Regions from separate parts of the Homo sapiens genome. Here region 1 is linked to region 2. Evidence: fine-mapped expression QTL. A gene starts in region 2. The other region holds a variant in brackets. All regions are shown on one strand. Distances are from middle to middle. Region 1 overlaps GALNTL5 (polypeptide N-acetylgalactosaminyltransferase like 5). Region 2 holds the start of GALNTL5 (polypeptide N-acetylgalactosaminyltransferase like 5).

Region 1 (8,620 bases), 51 kb before region 2:
CAGATATAAGAACTTGTTAAATAAAATATATTTTATCCTTTACATGTATCTTAAATGTCAGTTCTTCAGGGAAGCCATCTAAGACACATAATCCCCCAAGAGAAGGCTAGGTTCTCCTTTTAGAGGGTCCCATAATACTCTGTATTTTTCTATTGCATTTATCAAAAATAATTTTTTTTTTTTTTGAGACAGAGTCTCGCTCTGTCCGCCCAGGCTGGAATGCAGTGGCACGATCTCGGCTCACTGTAACCTCCACCTCCCAGGTTCAAGCAATTCTCGTGCCTCAGCTTCCTGAGTAGCTGGGATTACAGACGTGTACCACCATGCCCAGCTAATTTTTGTATTATTAGAAGAGACGGGGTTTCACCATGTTAGCCAGGCTGGTCTCAAACTCCTGACCTCAGGTGATCCACCTACTTTGGCCTCCCCAAGTGCTGGGATTATAGGTGTGAGCTGCCGCACCTGGGCCAAAAATAAAATTAAATATCTGATAATCTCACCCTACTCAATAGATAGAAGATTCATGACATTAGAAGCACTTTTGGCTGGACGCGGTGGCTTGTGCCTGTAATCCCAGCACTTTGGGAGGCCGAGGCAGGCGGATCACAAGGTCAGAAGATCAAGACCATCCTGGCCAACATGGTGAAACCCCATCTCTACTAAAATACAAACAATTAGCCAGGTGTTGTGGTGCATGTCTGTAGTCCCAACTACTCGGGAGGCTGAGGCAGGGGAATCGCTTGAACCTGGGAGGCGGAGATTGCAGTGAGCCAAGATCGTGCCACTGCACTCCAGCCTGGCGACAGAGCAAGACTCCGTCTCAAAAAAAAAAAAGAAGCCACTTTCGTATTGTGTGCCACTGTATTTTAGCACCCAGCACAGTGCTTCATACATAACAGTACTCAATACATATTGTTGCATGGATGAATTAATGAAGACTGTGTCTTCTTCTCAATGCTCAGCATACAGCACAGTTTGACTTAAAGGAAGTGCTCCTTAAATGATGGCTAGATTGAGCTTAAATATTACTCTCAAGAGATAGTCCTAAACTGAAACTATAGAGTTGGATATTATCGTGATACAGGTATTAGTTACAGCCATGGGGACTGATGCAAGTATCCTACTAAAAATATCAACAAGGGTGTGGCACAGACCCTCGGCGATCAGAGTAGACTTGCCCTGCCAAGTGCTATTCCCTTAGTTACTGGAACATGGGAAGGTCCAGGGAGCGTAGACCTATGGTTGGGCTGCAGGTGGAAGGTATTTGGTTGGCTCAGAGTAGAGGTTTTTTCACACCAGATGCAGAAAGACTGCATTATGTTAACAACCAGTGTGGCTTCACAGGAGCAGAGGACCTGGATGCTAGCCCTGAGCCCTGAAGAGCACATGGGGTAAGAAGCAAAGTCTGACAAGGATGGAAACCTTGGGGACACCTGTGTCTAAGAGATGAGCCACAGCAGAAATTCCTACAAAGGAAACTGAGAACAACTGAGCAATGGAAGGCAAACCAGGAATATTGTCCTAACGTCCAAGAAAACTTCCAGAAAAGACAGTTTAGTGTCAGATGCTGCAATGACCTCAGATAGATGGAAGATCAAAAGCCATCCATTAAGGACATCACTACAAAACTGGTGGCAGTTCCTGGAACGATGTCACGGAAAGCTGAGGGCCTTCCAGGATATCGATTTACTGGAATGAGGAGTAAACGAGAAATGAAGAGGTGTATGCAGGTGCAGAGATCATTCTTTTCTCAGGAAAGACAAGGTTACTTGTCGTGGTTAGAGACAGCTGCCAGTGTCAAGAGAATATTTCAGCTACTTATTAATTTACATACTTCTTTATAAAAAGACACCCAAGTATATTTAAAAGATATGACAGGCCATCAGGAAAGGCGCCATTGAAATATTGGAGTAGGAATAATTAATGTTTGAATAATAAATTAGTTGTCATTTGCTATCTATAGGGAATGTAGGGCCAGAAAAAGGAATATACTGACTCTCCAACTCTGCCTGTATAATACACAAAACTGATCACAGTTATTAGATCCTGAAAGGAGGTGAACTCCTTGAGCCATTTTCTTAGAGTGCAATATAATAAAACAAGGAATAATCAACTAAACAGAATAAAATGCGCCAAAGGCATGAGCGTTATAAAATAATGCCTACGTCCAAAGGGAACATGAGAATGAAAAAAACAAAGCAAGCAAACAAACAAACAAACAAACAACAAAAACAACAAGCTTAAGAGGGACCATCAGATAGAGGCTTGGAGGAAACTATATTGTTCTAGATATTTTTATATGCATAATCAAGTATCTGAAGCATTATGAAAGAAGTCTGCTTGGGAACTTTAAAAGTGAACAAATAACTGGCCAAAAGAAGGAAGGAAAAGAGAGAGAAAATAAAATCCAAAACAGAAAAAATTGGAAAAAACACAACTACTGAGACAATAAAGACAATAGATTTAAAATATTATATTAATTTGATATACCATACATCAGAAATAACAAAACATATGGTATAAGAACCAAATATTTTTAAATTAAATTAAATATATTTATTTTAAGAAGTAGAGTCTAGGCACAGTAGCTCACACCTGTAATCTCAGTGCTTTGGGAGGCCGAGATGGGAGGATTACTTGAGCTCAGGAGTTCAAGACCACCCTGGGCAACATAGCGAGACCACATCTCATAAAAAAAAAAAGTAGAGATGGGGGTCTTGCTATGTTGCTGAGGCTGGTCTTGAACTCCTGGCTTCAAACAATCCACTTGCCTCAGCCTCCCAAAGTGCTGAGATTACAGGCATGAGCCACCACACCAGGCCAAGAATCTAATATTTTATTAAATGTTTTCCATTTTTACAAGGAGCCCCATAAATTGTTTATTGCATGTGCTGCTGGAATGGTACTGGATGTTCATGTAGGAAAATTGAGCATAATTACCACAGCATTGTATGTGACAAAGTTAGGTTTCACTCTCTATAGCTATTTTAAAAATGAAATCTGAATTACCCTTAGTGAAAGTTCCAAATTTTCTCTTCCCCAAAAATCCATATCCTTGTCATACTGTCCAATTTCATTAAAATAATGCCGACGTATAGCAAAAATTCCTCCAGACATTGCAGGTGACCTAGAAAGGGGACATAAATATGAAATTAATTTCACAGAGAAAGTCATTCTGTAGTTTCCTCAAAATTATATTAAATTAGTAATAACTTATAGTTTAAAATGAGAAAACAGGCCGGGTGTGGAGGCTCATGCCTGTAATCCCAGCACTTTGGGAGGCCGAGGCGGGTGCATTACGAGTTCAGGAGATCGAGACCATCCTGGCTAACACAGTGAAACCCCGTCTCTACTAAAAATACAAAAAATTAGCCAGGCAAGGTGGCATGCGCCTGTAGTCCCAGCTACTCGGGAGGCTGAGGCAGGAGAATCGCTTGTACCTGGGAGGCAGAGGTTGCAGTGAGCTGAGATCGTGCCACAGCACTCCAGCCTGGGACGACAGAGCCAGACTCTGTCTCAAAAAAAAAAAAAAAAAAAAAAGAGAAAACATTAATACTAAAATTATCCTATTATACATTTAAGTATATAAAATTACTAAAAACCACAACAAAAGTAGGCAATAACTTTTACTTAGTTCTCACCAAAATGTGTATGCGATATATTCTAAATGTTTTCCTAATGAGAAGGAAAATGATATTTGGAATGTAAGTTTCCCATGAGGATGACAATTGAACTGGGTAGCAGGGCTCAGAGCTCTCCCTTTCTAAAGACATTAGGTGAATTGTAATATTTACTTCTGGACAAACCATAATATTAAGAAGCATCTTGTTTTGTCCACCAATAGTAGGGCCAAATAATACCAAACTAAGTAGTTTGAAAATAGTCACAGCTGGGTGTGGTGGCTCACACCTGTAATCCCAACACTTGGGAGGCTGAGGCTGGTGGATCATTTGAGGTCAGGAGTTCAAGACCAGCCTGGCCAACATGGTGAAACCCCATCTCTACGAAAAATACAAAAATTAGCCAGATG[C/T]AGTTGCCCGCGCCTGTAATCCCAGCTACCCAGGACACTGTGGCATGAGAATCGCTTGAACCTGGGAGGCTGCAGTGAGCTGAGATCGCACCACTGCACTCCAGCCTGGGCAACAGAGTGAGAATCTGTCCCGCCCCCCCCAAAAAAAAGAAAAAGAAAAATAATCACAAGTTTACATTCATTTGTTCAAATAAGTATTTATTGAGCACCTATGTTTTAGGGATATGAGTCACTCAACACACAAACCAAGACCCATGTGTAGGGGAAAGGGTAGGGAAGCCAATTAGAGGGGCTGCAGAGAAAAATAATGGGATCCGGGATAAGAATGCAGCAATGTAGGTAGTAAGATGCGGTTGAATTCCTGGCATATTTTGGAGATGGAGCTAACAGATTTGCTTATGGGTCGGGTGTGGGGTGCCTACTGCACCAGATGTGACACACATTGCCGAGTGCACCAGATAGGAACATTCCTATCAGAATCCAGTCATGCTGTTATCTCTGCCAATTACAAAATTAAAACCGCCTTATTTTGACCCCACTTCCTGTCAGTTATGTCCCCTTTTCTCTCTTTCGTATTAAAGCCTTAGAAAGATTTGTCCATCACTATCTCTAATTCCCTTAAACTCCCTTCCATCAGGCTTCGCCTCCCGCCATTCACAATTAAGACTTGTTCATGACCTTCTCATGGTTTAGTCCAATGCTCATTTCCAGTCCTTCTCTCGCTGATCCAGCCACTGTGTTGGATGCTGCTGGCCACACCCTTCTCTTGGACACACATGCCTCCCTGGGCCTCCAGGGAACCAGATTTCCTGGTCCTTCTCCTCCCTCCCTGGTTGCTCCTTCCCATCTCCTTTGCCAGTTCCTCTCCTCCTCTCAACTGTCAATGTTGAAGCACCCAGGGCTCAGGGCTGGTCCTCTACACTTCTCCACTCACCCACATAGTGATTCTCATCCATCCTATCCATGACTCCCAAAGGATGCCTCCAGCCCTGACCTCTCTCAAAACTCCAGACTCATGATTGAATCCATATAGGATTGTGTTCAGTACCAGAGAATCAAAGAGTTATAGATGATATGAAGATAAATGTCATATCATGTTATAGATTGAGTCCTAAGTAATTCTATTGACAATAATTCTATTACTGTATTAAAGACTTCTAGAAGCAAGTAACAGAACAATTTGATTAAGCCTAAGAACTTGAAAGAATAATCTCTGGAGGCTTTTTCCCCCTGGGTCTCAATATACATATTCTATATTTTTCCAAAACCAGAAGAAATCTCACCAGATTGGTTTAGTAGGTCCTTCTGGCCCATCCATCTCATAAGGGACTCATGTATCCAACTGCATCCAACTACCTACTTCACATCCCCACTTGAATGCCAAATAGACATCTCAAATATGCCCCAAAGAGAATCTTCCTGCCAAAAACCTGCTCCACTCATGGTATTTCTCATCTCAGGGCACTGCAGTTCCGTCCATTTGGTGTGCAGGCCGAAAACGTTGGAGTCAGCTGTGGTCTGAGACAGCAGGGAGAAAGTGAAAGGGCCTTGCTCTGCCCTTAGAAAAGGGCAGGTGGCTGGGGGAAAAGGGCATGATCCTTGGTCATGGTGATGCCTGCATGTCAGGGAGCTGGGGAGGTCTTGAGTTATCATTGGCTTAAGCCCTAGGCATGATTTTGCTTTTTGTGTGTGTGTGTGTTAAGTTTTCCAAAACTCATTGCACCTAGCTTTTTTGGTCGTCATTAGAACTAAGGGAAAAATGTATCTTCAGATATGAATGCTAATTAATACCATGACTAATATGTAACAGATGCTGGCGAGGATGAGGAGAAAAGGGAACGCTTGCACAGTGTTGGTAGGAATGTAAATTAGTACAACCGCTGTGGAAAACAATACAGAGATTTCTCAACGAACTAAAAGTAGAACTACCATTGAATCCAGCATTCTCACTATTGGGTATCTTCCTAAAGGGAAAGAAATCATCTGTGTCAAAAAGATACCTGCCATTGTATGTTTATCACAGCACTATTCACAACTGTAAAGTCATGGGATCAACTAAAGTGTCCCTCAGTGGAAGACTGGATAAAGAAAATGTGGTATATATACACAATGGAATACTATTCAGCCATAAAAAAGAATAAAATGATGTCTTTGGCTGCAACATGGATGGAACTGGAGGCCATTATCTTAAGTGAAACAATCCAGAAGCAGAAAGAGAAATACACATGTTCTCATTTATAAGTGGGAACTAAATAATGTATACACATGGACATAGAGTGTGGACTGACAGGCATTGGAGACAGAAGGGTGGTGACAGGAGGGCAATGGATGATGAGAAGTGACTTAATGGGTCCGGTGTACATTGTTTGAGTGGTGGATACTTGGAAAGTCCAGACTTTACCACTAGGCAATATAGCCATATAACAAAATTGCACTTGTACCCCTTATATTTATACAAATAATAATAAATCAATAAAATAACAAAATAAAATTTATTTTTTCTTTTAACCTTTAAAAAATAACTTATGTTTTCTTATACATATTATATATTTTAATGTAACATACAATTATAATATATGTAATATGTATAATATATATTACATATAATAGGTACATATTTAATCACACAAAGGTATACTGACAGAACATTTTTTATGGTTTGATTTTTTAATTTAACACATGAGAAGTTTTCTTTCTAGTTAATTAGCCCTTGAAAACTTAACTTTAATGATTATGTGATAGTCCATAAAAATGAATATACTTTATTTTTTACCCATTTCAATAGTATTGAATATGTTGTTTTCAGTTTTTTATGAATATAAATATTGACACACTATATATATCTCCGTGCTTATTTCTGACTCTCTTCAAATAAATTCAAGTAAGTGGATTACTGCATCAAAGAATAAGGATATTTATAAGATTCTTAATTTGCATTGCCAAATTGTTTTCAAAAAGAATGATCCAATGTATATACACACGAGCAGTGTATTAGAATTCTAAACATTTTACCATTTAGCAAATAAATATTAGGAATACAGTTTCCCTGTTGAATATCAGTTATTTTTACATTAGAGCCTAAAAATGTTTTATATGTGAGATATGGAAATATTACAAAAATTATAAACCAAGTTTGTGTAATTGGAACACCATAGCTATTTCTTACTAAAAGTAACTATTTAAAATAGTTTTGAGATAACTCAAAAGATTAATGCTGTTTATTTTTATTAAGTTGAGATTTCTACATATTACATTTTATTACAATAAAGTACACTTTTGTTCCTCTTTGTTCCAAAGTCTGTGACATTACTGTAGCTAATGTTGATATTGATCAGATCACTTCCTCTGTGTCAAGCCTTATGCTATGTGTTTTACATGTATTGGCTCATTTAATCCCCTCAACGATCCTAAGAAATGTGTTAATTATTACTATCACTGTTTAACAGATGAGGACGACATTGAAGTTGAGAGAGGTAATTGTGCCAACTGAGGGCCATCTTAATGTACAATTCCAGACATGCCATTGACCTTGTGGTCTTTGTGTGAACAGTATCTCCTGGAGATGTGCAGTGCACAGCTGGTGCAACTGTACATGGCAGCCCTAAACTGCTAACAAATGATGGAGTCTCTCCTTCAAACCAGATCTGTTTGACTTGAGCTTTTAGTCAAATGAAATATTGCTCCTGAAAGTCATGATTGAATCCATATAGGATTGTGTTCAGTACCAGAGAATCAAAGAGTTATAGATGATATGAAGATAAATATCATATCACGTTATATATTGAGTCCTAAGTGATTCTATTAACAATAATTCTATTACTGTATTAAAGACTTCTAGAAACAAGTAACATAACATTTTGATTAAGCCCAAGAACTTGAAAGAATAATCTCTGGAGGCTTTTTCCCCCTGGGTCTCAATACACGTATGCTATATTTTTCCAAAACCAGAAGAAATCTCACCGGATTGGTTTAGTAGATCCTTCTGGTCCATCCATCTCATAAGAGAAAACATTATCCCATTTAAATTGTAGGTTCCAATCAAAAGTTCCCCTTACAAGAGGAGAGGGCTTATACTCCAGAGTTCTATCATCAATGACATCTATCAGGGGGCACACCACCATTTTGGGGTCCTTGGCAATGGCATGCAGCAGGGGCTCCAGCCATACTCTGTTCACCTCACAGTGGCTGTCCAGGAACACCAGAACATCCCCTGGGGAGGCAAGAACAGGGCAATGTTAGTCCACATAGCTGAAAAAATACGGCAATCCAAATCAAAGTTCAATGTGATGAATATTTCTTGAGCATTTACTATGTGTTTGGCTCTTACAGTGCTTTCATTTTCATTGGAAGGAAACAAGAAATACATTATTATGTACAAAAATATGCAACATCATGTGCCATAGATGTTGAGGGGAAGCCAGTAATTGTGGGTTAGAGAGTGGTTTTGGGGAGAATTCTAAAGGAGCAGGTGGAACTGAACTGGATTTCCATTTTAAAAAATGATTTTAGCTTGGTCTTGACTGATCAGCTTAAATTTAGCAAATTTTTACTGAAAGGACACCTTCTTAGGCATTGAGTTTGGTGCATGGG
Region 2 (8,620 bases):
CCAGGAAAATGGGCTGTAAAGGGGATTTTAGGGCTAAGCCACCCTCCAGGCGGCTGGCCCTGAGCATCCCATTGCTGGTGGAAAGGTGGTGTTCTGAAAGCCCCTGGCATACTGTGGCTGATATGTGCTTGTTAAAATCTCACTGGCTGTGAATCAGGATGGAATATAGGTGGAAAGGAATTTTCTGGTTGGTGCGCTTGACTGAGGAACAGGGAGGAGTAATTATAAATATTGCAAGGTAGATGGCTATTGCCGGATGCCATGGTTGCATCTGAAAAAGGCAAGGAAGGCTGAGGGTGGTAATCACCAATTTAAAGCAAATTAACAGAGTCAGAGGCCCTTGTTAGCATATGAAGGATCTCATTTCCTACAACCGAAGGGCGGGGAGAGCTGAGGATCATGCCCAGGGCCTGATTATCTGGGCAGCAGAACTCCAGGGAAGGTTGAATTCTCAAGCCTGGCTGGTCTTCTATCCAGGGAAGGAGGAAGGCTCTGACACGTGGGATGGGGATGTCTGGGTAGAGACACGCCAGAGACCTGGAAGGCCCAGGTCCACAGGAACCCTCTGAGCCTACAGAAATGGCCCACTGCTCCCCAACAAGGCTAGCTCTCCTCCTCTGCTTTGCAAGGCAACACGTGCCCTGCCTCAGGACCTTCCCCCCAGTACCCTCCTGGCCACCAGATCAATAAGTAGGGTCACATTACAACTTAGCCTGTGTGGGAAACTGCTACCCTGCTAAGGGAAGAAGGAGAGTGTTCCCAAAGGAGCTGCAGAATCAGCCATCTTGAACCAGCAGGCACGCAGGGTGTATATATGGGACTGAGTCCAGAGGATACAGATTAAGGGAGGGGGAATGTAAATTTTGATTTGGGAGCATTTATTACAACAGGAATATCCCCCAGGACACAGGCTTTAACACTCTGGCCAAGATCCTGGGTGCAAAATAGAGATTCATTGATTGAATAAATAGCACTTTACAAATGAAATATTTGATTATGCCAATTAAAAGTATCAAATATATAAAGAGAAGAAGGCAACTTCTAACTAGGGAAAATGGCGAATTAGGACGCCTGAAAAGAGAATAAAGCTGTTTTAATTTACATTACCACCATATCTCCCTATTAAATATCTAAATTTTAAAGTTATCTAAAGTTAACTTCCATGTCAACTTTCTCCAAAAACCAAAAGCAATTAGAAACTAGTTAAAAAAAAAAGGTAAGGGGAGACAACCAAATGTAATATACAAAATAAACACATGCACTAATATGATAGTGATAGCAACAGGAGACAGACAAATTCCTAGGCAGAGAGGGGCAGGTCCCCAGTGAAATCCAACCTTCAAGCCAAAGACAGCTTAAAGCCTGAAAACTGAGTTGCCAGAGTCCACGACCGGAGTGAGAACTTCCTCAATGCCTTGTAGCCAATCAAATGGTGTTATTTCCAGGCCCACCTGGAAGGACTGGTGCTCTTTCCAGCATGTACTTCCCCATTCTGAGCCCATGAAAACCCCAGACTCAGCCCCATGTTGGGACTATCCATCTTTGAGCCCCCTCTCACACAGAGGGCTACCCACTTTGGATCCCCTCTTGTGTCAAGAGCTGTTCTGTTGCTCAATAAAACCCTTCTCTGCCTTGCTGACTCTCCAGTGTCTGTGTAACCTCATTCTTCTTGGACGCAGGACAAGGACCTGGGACCCACCGAATGATGGGTGCAAAAGGAGCTGTAACACTGTAACCTTCCCACCTTCTGCCAGTGCCAGATGGCCACCCCACATCATGGGAAGTGGTGGTAGGGCTGGGCCAGCCTAGGAGCACCAGTGGGCTGGAGCAGGATGGTGGGACAGAATGAGCTGTAGCACAAATGAGCTGCAACACACCCCTTGCACTGTTTGCCGCAACCAAACAAGCCATAACACACCCCCCTCCCCAACCCCGTTTCACTATGCTGCAGGTGGCAGGAAGGAGACAGAGAGCTGTAACAGTCCTTGGGGGCTCAGACCTTGGGACTCCCCAGGTGAGAGCTGTAACACCCCTTGGGGCTCTGTGGCGGTTGGCATCTCTGAGTTTTCAGGCACCACCATGTTCCCCCTCATCCAGATGCTGGTGCCCAAGGTGGAAGATGGTTGTGGCACACTCAGACCAGCCATGGGCTAAGCACAGAGTGGTGTGTGTGTGCAGAATCTAGGTCGGTAGTGCCAGCCGAGTGCAGCCTGCTGCGTCCAGTGGGGAGAGCAAGCCCAGAGGTGAGCCTAGAGCCAAGTGAGGCCCAAGGACGGGTGCTGCCAGCCGGGAAATGTCCAGCTGGCAAAGTGACATTGAAAGAATCCTGTCTCAATAGGATTATTACTGAAAAATAAATTATTCTCTAGAAAGATTCTAATACATCAGGAAAACTTGGGGGGAATTCTCTTTAGACGTGAACACTTATGAACATATCCCCAACCTCCTTAATTTTCTTATTTTACTAATATGAGTTCTTATATTATGTTTTCTCTGTGACAAGCACCTCACCTCCCAACCCACCCCCTATACTCCCACAAAACACAGAAAACCCCTCCTATCAAGAGATCGATGTAAGAGGTGTGTGATTGGCCTTTGGACTTTGTGTCTTCAGAAGAAAACCATGTTCAGTTATTTTCTTCACTAAAAGATGCAGAATTCAATGCTAGAAAAGCACAGAATTTGTAAAATATATTTCAACGAGGATTCATATGTACAGCAAATAAAATTTTAAGTGCATTAAAGAGACTTAGCAGATGATCAAAAGAATCCTGTAGAGAAAAGAATGCAGCTAATAGTCACCAACATGCCCCCACCAACACGCCAAAACCCTAGCCTAAATCTGCATTTACAGTCATTGAGTTTCTTTCTTTTTTTTTTTCTTTTCTTTTTTTTTTTTGAGACAGGGTCTCGCTCTGCTGCCCAGGTTGGGGTGCAGTGGCCCAATTACAGCTCACTGCAGCCTTGACTTCCCAGGCTCAAATGATCCTCCTCTTTCAGCCTCCCAAGTAGCTGGTACTACAGGCTGGTGAGTGCCACCACGCCTGTTTTTTTTTTTTTTTTTTAAATAGAGATGAGGTCTTGCTATGTTGCCCAGGCTGGTCTCAAACTCCTGAGCTCAAGTGATCCTTCTGCCTTGGCCCCCAAAAGTGCTGGGATTACAGGCATGAGCTACCATGCCTGGCCAAGTTTTTAAAAAAATACGAGTCTATTGAATCAGGAAAACATGACCATGCTTTAGATAATATCACAACTAATTCTTCTGTCAATAATCAACACTTTTTTTCCTTTTTTTTTTTTTTTTTCTCGAGACAGAGTCTCACTCTTTCATCCAAGCTGATCTTGAACTCCTGGACTCACATGGTCCTGCCACCTTAGCCTCCCAGGAGCTGGAATTACAGATGCCAGCTGCCGTGCCCAGTTTATAATCAGCATTTTTAACCCCTAGCTTTCCTAGGACCATCTTAATACTGATCTCCATATAAGATCTAGGACTTTATGACACTGCTAAGGGCCTTTATTTCCCTATTTTTTTCAAATAAGTAATACAGTCACTGTATAAACATTACCAGCATAAAGACACATGTAATGAAAAGTTTCCCTATTTTTCATGAACTAAAGCCATTACAATGCCCAGTCCACGTTTAGGGTGGTGTAACCAGCTAGGAGGCTACTCCTTCTTTAAAAAATAAAATAAATCTTCTTAAACCTAATCCCCAGAGCTAGCACCTCCTTCAAGACGCAGTGATTTGATGTACTGCTTCCGCTGATTCAAAGTGAAAGACGTTTCCCCCCATCTTTGTTCCCACTTCTAGCACATGGGGCTCACTTCACCTACCCTTGAGATAATTGCATTGGCTGCTTTGTAACTGATGAATTTTCCAAGCAGAGTCACAGCTGAATGAGGCAGGGGTCTGTGCCGAATGAACTGAGAGATGTAAAATTTTTTTTAGCTAGCAGGCTTTATGGTGGCTGGGTTCCAAGCAGATACCTGGTTGTGCTGGGTTGCGGGGCCACACAGTAGTACTCAAAGGGCAGTACAGTCCCCCTCACAAAGCCTGATGACATCACACAGGGCGTCACAGCCCCACAGGGGCCCCTGCCTGTAAGCTCCAACCAGCAGGTGGAATCCAGGAGTTCCAAGGTCCTAAGGGTCCTTACCCCTCAGCTGAGAAAATAGGGAAAGCCTCATATTAGGTGAGGCTAGAATCCAGGGTGACTCTCTTCTCTAGGCAAGGCCTAATTTTTAGCTTTTTATATTTATTTATTTATTTATTTATTTATTTATTTATTTATTTATTTATTTATTTTTGAGATGGAGTCTCGCTCTGTCCCCCAGGATGGAGTGCAGTGGTGCAATCTCTGCAATCTCTGCGATCTCCGCTCACTGCAAGCTCCGCCTCCCGGGTTCACGCCATTCTCCTGTCTCAGCCTCCGGAGTAGCTGGGACTACAGGCGCCCACCACCACGCCCGGCTAATTTTTTGTATTTTTAATAGAGATGGGGTTTCACCGTGTTAGCCAGGATGGTCTCCATCTCCGGACCTCGTGATCGGCCCGACTCGGCCTCCCAAAGTGCTGGGATTACAGGCGTGAGCCACCGCGCCCGGCTAATTTTTAGCATTTTTGAAATAAACTTAAGAAAAAGAACAAGCTTTCAGAAAACATGAAGAAACTTAAAGATGAGCCAAAGGGTTATTTGATTGCCTTTTAATTCTTTACTCTACGTTACTCAACATTTAGATGTCAGTACACAAGTTCAGCCAAATGCTTGTGAAATTTCTTCTGAACGCATCCCAGGAGACTTGACCCTCCCCGCTTCAGGATGCTGACTCTGTTTTGCCTGAAACCAGACAAGCTCTGCTTCAGGGTCTGTGAGTGGAAGGGGGTGGGTGGGAACCTCTCGCAACCTCTCCTGGGACAGACACAATGGGCAATCGTGACCTCCTGGGGTAGATACTGAAACTGTGACAAGTGATAACAAAACTGGCAGAAATCAGTTGGACCCAATATGGCCAACTGGAGTTTCTGCAGAAAGAGCTTGCTGATATCACAGCCTGAATTTCCACGCATGTTTCGTATTAACTGCCCCGGAATTTGATTTGCACACAGCACCCATGAGGAAGCATGAAGAGATAACTGCGCATGTCTGAGGACTTGCCAGACCTCCTCTTTCCTTCCACCGATCTCCTGCTAATCCCGGAACCCACCCTCTAACCCTTTTCTAATAAAATTATTTCCTTAAAGGCAGCACAGCGAGACAGATTTGAGCTGGACTCCTGTCTCCGTGTTGGTCAATTTGCAATGAAAAGCTTTTCTTTTCTCTGAAACCCAGTGTCTTAGTATTTATTGGCTTCTAGCGCACGGGTCAGTGACCTCTTTTGCTCGGTAACAACATAATGGGCTATAATGACCTCCTGGGGCAGACGGACGGGCATTAATGACGTCCAAGCCAAACTCATGAGTCTCCTTTCTGCAGGCTCGATGGGAAGGTCCTTCTTGCCCATTAATAATATAAAAGTAAGCTTTTATTCATATTAGCCTCAAACTGGAAAAAACCCAAATGTCCATCTGTAGTAGAATGGACCCACTGTGGCATATTCATATAATGCAATGCAAACCAGCAGTGAAAAAGACCAGACTGCAGCTGCATACAACATGGATGCATCTCGCAGACATGGCGTGAGACCGAAGCAGCTCATGGGAGAGCGCGATTCTATTTCTGTGAAGTTTCTGCAGAACGAGGGCTTGCTGAGGTCACAACCCAAATTCCTACAGCATGTGGAAGGGAGCAAGAAAAGGCAAAGCTACTCTAAAGTGATAGAACAGTTTATCTATCTATCAGTAACAAGTAGCTGTGTTTGGGAGCCAGAACAGGATTGCTGGTTACTGAGAGGGAGCAAGAGAGAGCCTTTTGGAGTGCTGGAATGTTCTGGGTCTTCTTGATCTGGGGGAGTGAAGGCTTCACGGAGCCTACTTGTACAAACGTGCATTGGGCTGGTCACTGAAAGTGTATATACTTCACTGTATGTATGTCGTATCCTCAAAACACGAGGGAAAAAAAGTGAGTCAACACAACTTTTGGACAAAGATTTTATTGTGGGAGTTTTGCAACCATTACACAGTTTGCTTGGTGTAATAAAGTAAAATCTTTCTTTCTGAGAAAGGTGCACATATACCGTATTCAAGGACAATAGTTCAAATTGTGTTTATTTATTTATATTTTTATTTATATATTTGAGACAGAGTCTTGCTCTGTTGCCCAGGCTGGATCACACCACTGCTGGTGTGATCATGGCTCACTGCAGCCTTGACCTCTCAGGCTGAAGCAATCTTCCTGCCTCAACCTCTTAAGTGGCTGGGACTGCAGGAATGTGCCACCACACCCAGCTAATTTTTTTATTTTATATTAGTTTTCGTAAAGGCAAGACCTCGCTATGTTGCTCAGGCTGGTCTCGAATTCCTGGGCTCAAGCTATCCTCCCACCTTGGCCTCCCAAAGTGCTGCAATTACAGGCATGATCTACTGTGCCCGAACTTTTTTTGAGACAGAGTCTCACTCTGTCGCCCAGGCTGGAGTGCAGGGGCAAGATCTCAGTTCACTGCAAGCTCCGCCTCCCGGGTTCTTGCCATTCTCCTGCCTCAGCCTCTCAGGTAGCTGGGACTACAGGTGCACGCCACTGCGCTCAGCTAATTTTTGCATATTTAGTAGAGATGGGGTTTCGCCATGTTGGCCAGGCTGGTCTCGAACTCCTGACCTCGTGATCCACTCCCCTCAGCCTCAGTGCTGAGATTACAGGCATGAGCCACCTCACCCGGCCTGGAACTTTATTTTTTAATTGAGATATTACATCTCGTACAATTCACCTTTCATCCATTTTGTGGCATTTGTCAGTATTTCATTCCTTTTTATGCCTGAATAATGAGCTGTTGTTTGAAAATACCCCATTTTATTTATCTATTCATCAACTGGTGAATATTTAGCTGGTTTCCACTTTGGGGGTGTTATAAATAGTACTGCTATGAATATTCCTGTACACATTTCTGTGTGGACATAAGTTTTCAGTTCTCTTGAGTATACACATAGGAGTAGAGTTGCATGTGGTAACTCCAGGTTTAATTTTTTGAGTAATTGCCAGACTGTTTTATAAAGCAGCTACACCATAGAATTTTTATTTCCAAGATTTTTCCCAAGGGAAAGGAAAACGAGTCATGAACAGCCCTTCCTTAGGGCTTGCCCTACCGATTTCAGACTTGCCTTGCCAGCCCCTACCGTTGTGCACCAGCCAACTCCTGGCAATACATTTCTTCATGTGTTTCTCTTACTGGTTCTGTTTCTCAGGCTAACAAGCCCATACTCCTGTGTAACTGAACCCTTTTAAAAATTACAGAACCTAGAAAGTTCCTACACGGTCCTTCTCTGCTGTCAGTGCCCATTACCATCTGGCCCCAGAAGCAAGCACTATTCTGATTTTATTTACCATATATTAGTTTTGCCTGCTATAGAATTTCATGTAACTGAAAGGATATGATAAGTGGTAGGAAACCTTGTGTAAGGTTTCTTTCATTCAGCATAATATTTTTGAGACTTATTGTTTCATGTATCAGTAGTTTACTTTTTATTGGTGAGTAGATTTTTATCATTAAAATCATACCATACCATTTGTTTTTTCATTATTTTGGTCATGAATACCTGGGTAGTTTAGTTTGCTCAGGCTGCCATAACAAAGTACTAAAGGCTTGGTGGTTTAACAACCAAAATTAATTTTTTTTTTTTTTTTTTTTTTTTGTAGACAGAGTCTCTCGTTCTGTCACCCAGACTGGAGTGCAGAGGCGCGATCTCAGCTCACTGCAACCTCTGCCTTCTGGGTTCAAGCAATTCTTCTCCTTCAGCCTCCCGAGTAGCTGGGATTATAGACATGGGCAATCTTTGTATTTTTAGTAGAGATGGGGTTTCACCATGTTGGCCACCATGCCAGGCTGGTCTTGAACTCCTGACCTTATAATCTGCCCACCTTGGCCTCCTAAAGTGCTGGGATTACAGGCGTGAGTCATTGAACCTGGCCTGAAATTAATTTCTCATAGCTCTGGAGGCTACAAGTCCAAGATTAAGCTGCCAGTGGGGTTGGATTCCTCTGAGGACTCTCTCCTTGGCTTGCAGTTGGCCACCTTCTTGCTTTGTCCTCACATGCTCTTTCTTAGGTGTGCACACACCCGTGGGGTTCTCTCTCTGGGTGTTGTAATGTCCTCTTCTTAAAAGGGCACCAATCCGATTGTATTAAGGCTCACTCTAACAACCTCATTTTAACTTAACTGCCTCTTTAAAGGCCTTATCTTTAAACACAGTCAGTACCATTCTAAGGTACTAGGGGTCAGGATTTCAACATATGAATTTGAGGGGGATGCAATTCAGTTGATAGCACCACACTGTTTCCAGTTTGGAGCCTTTACGAATAAAGCTATTCTGAAATTCTCGTTCATGTTTTTATGGACTGACGCTTTCGGTTCTCTTGAGTAAACACCCAGGAGTGTTTAGTCTTTTAAGAAGTGGTCAGACCTTCTACTAAAGTGCTAGTGCCACGTGTGCTCCCATTTGGCGTTGTCACTCTTTTTAATTTTAGC

Evidence for each region. PIP is the estimated chance that this variant, and not a neighbour inherited with it, causes the effect.
Region 1: its variant is fine-mapped to the expression of GALNTL5 in prefrontal cortex (BrainSeq, PIP 0.95).

Annotation. Positions count from the first base shown.
Region 1 is chr7:152,002,334-152,010,953 of GRCh38, reverse strand. GALNTL5 (polypeptide N-acetylgalactosaminyltransferase like 5) reads right to left here. Exons shown (of 9, transcript NM_145292.4): 6 at 7,991-8,240; 7 at 3,010-3,127. Among named protein-coding and RNA genes, the nearest start is that of GALNT11, 19 kb to the left of the region's middle. The variant C/T (reference allele first, on the strand shown) is at 4,031.
Region 2 is chr7:151,951,828-151,960,447 of GRCh38, reverse strand. It overlaps GALNTL5 (polypeptide N-acetylgalactosaminyltransferase like 5), which reads right to left and starts at 4,002. Exons shown (of 9, transcript NM_145292.4): 1 at 3,839-4,002. It overlaps LOC105375570 (a long non-coding RNA gene), which reads left to right and starts at 5,526. Exons shown (of 3, transcript XR_007060597.1): 1 at 5,526-6,063. It overlaps LOC105375571 (a long non-coding RNA gene), which reads left to right and starts at 4,103. Exons shown (of 2, transcript XR_928179.2): 1 at 4,103-4,197; 2 at 4,743-5,249. RefSeq lists a silencer at 8,518-8,620.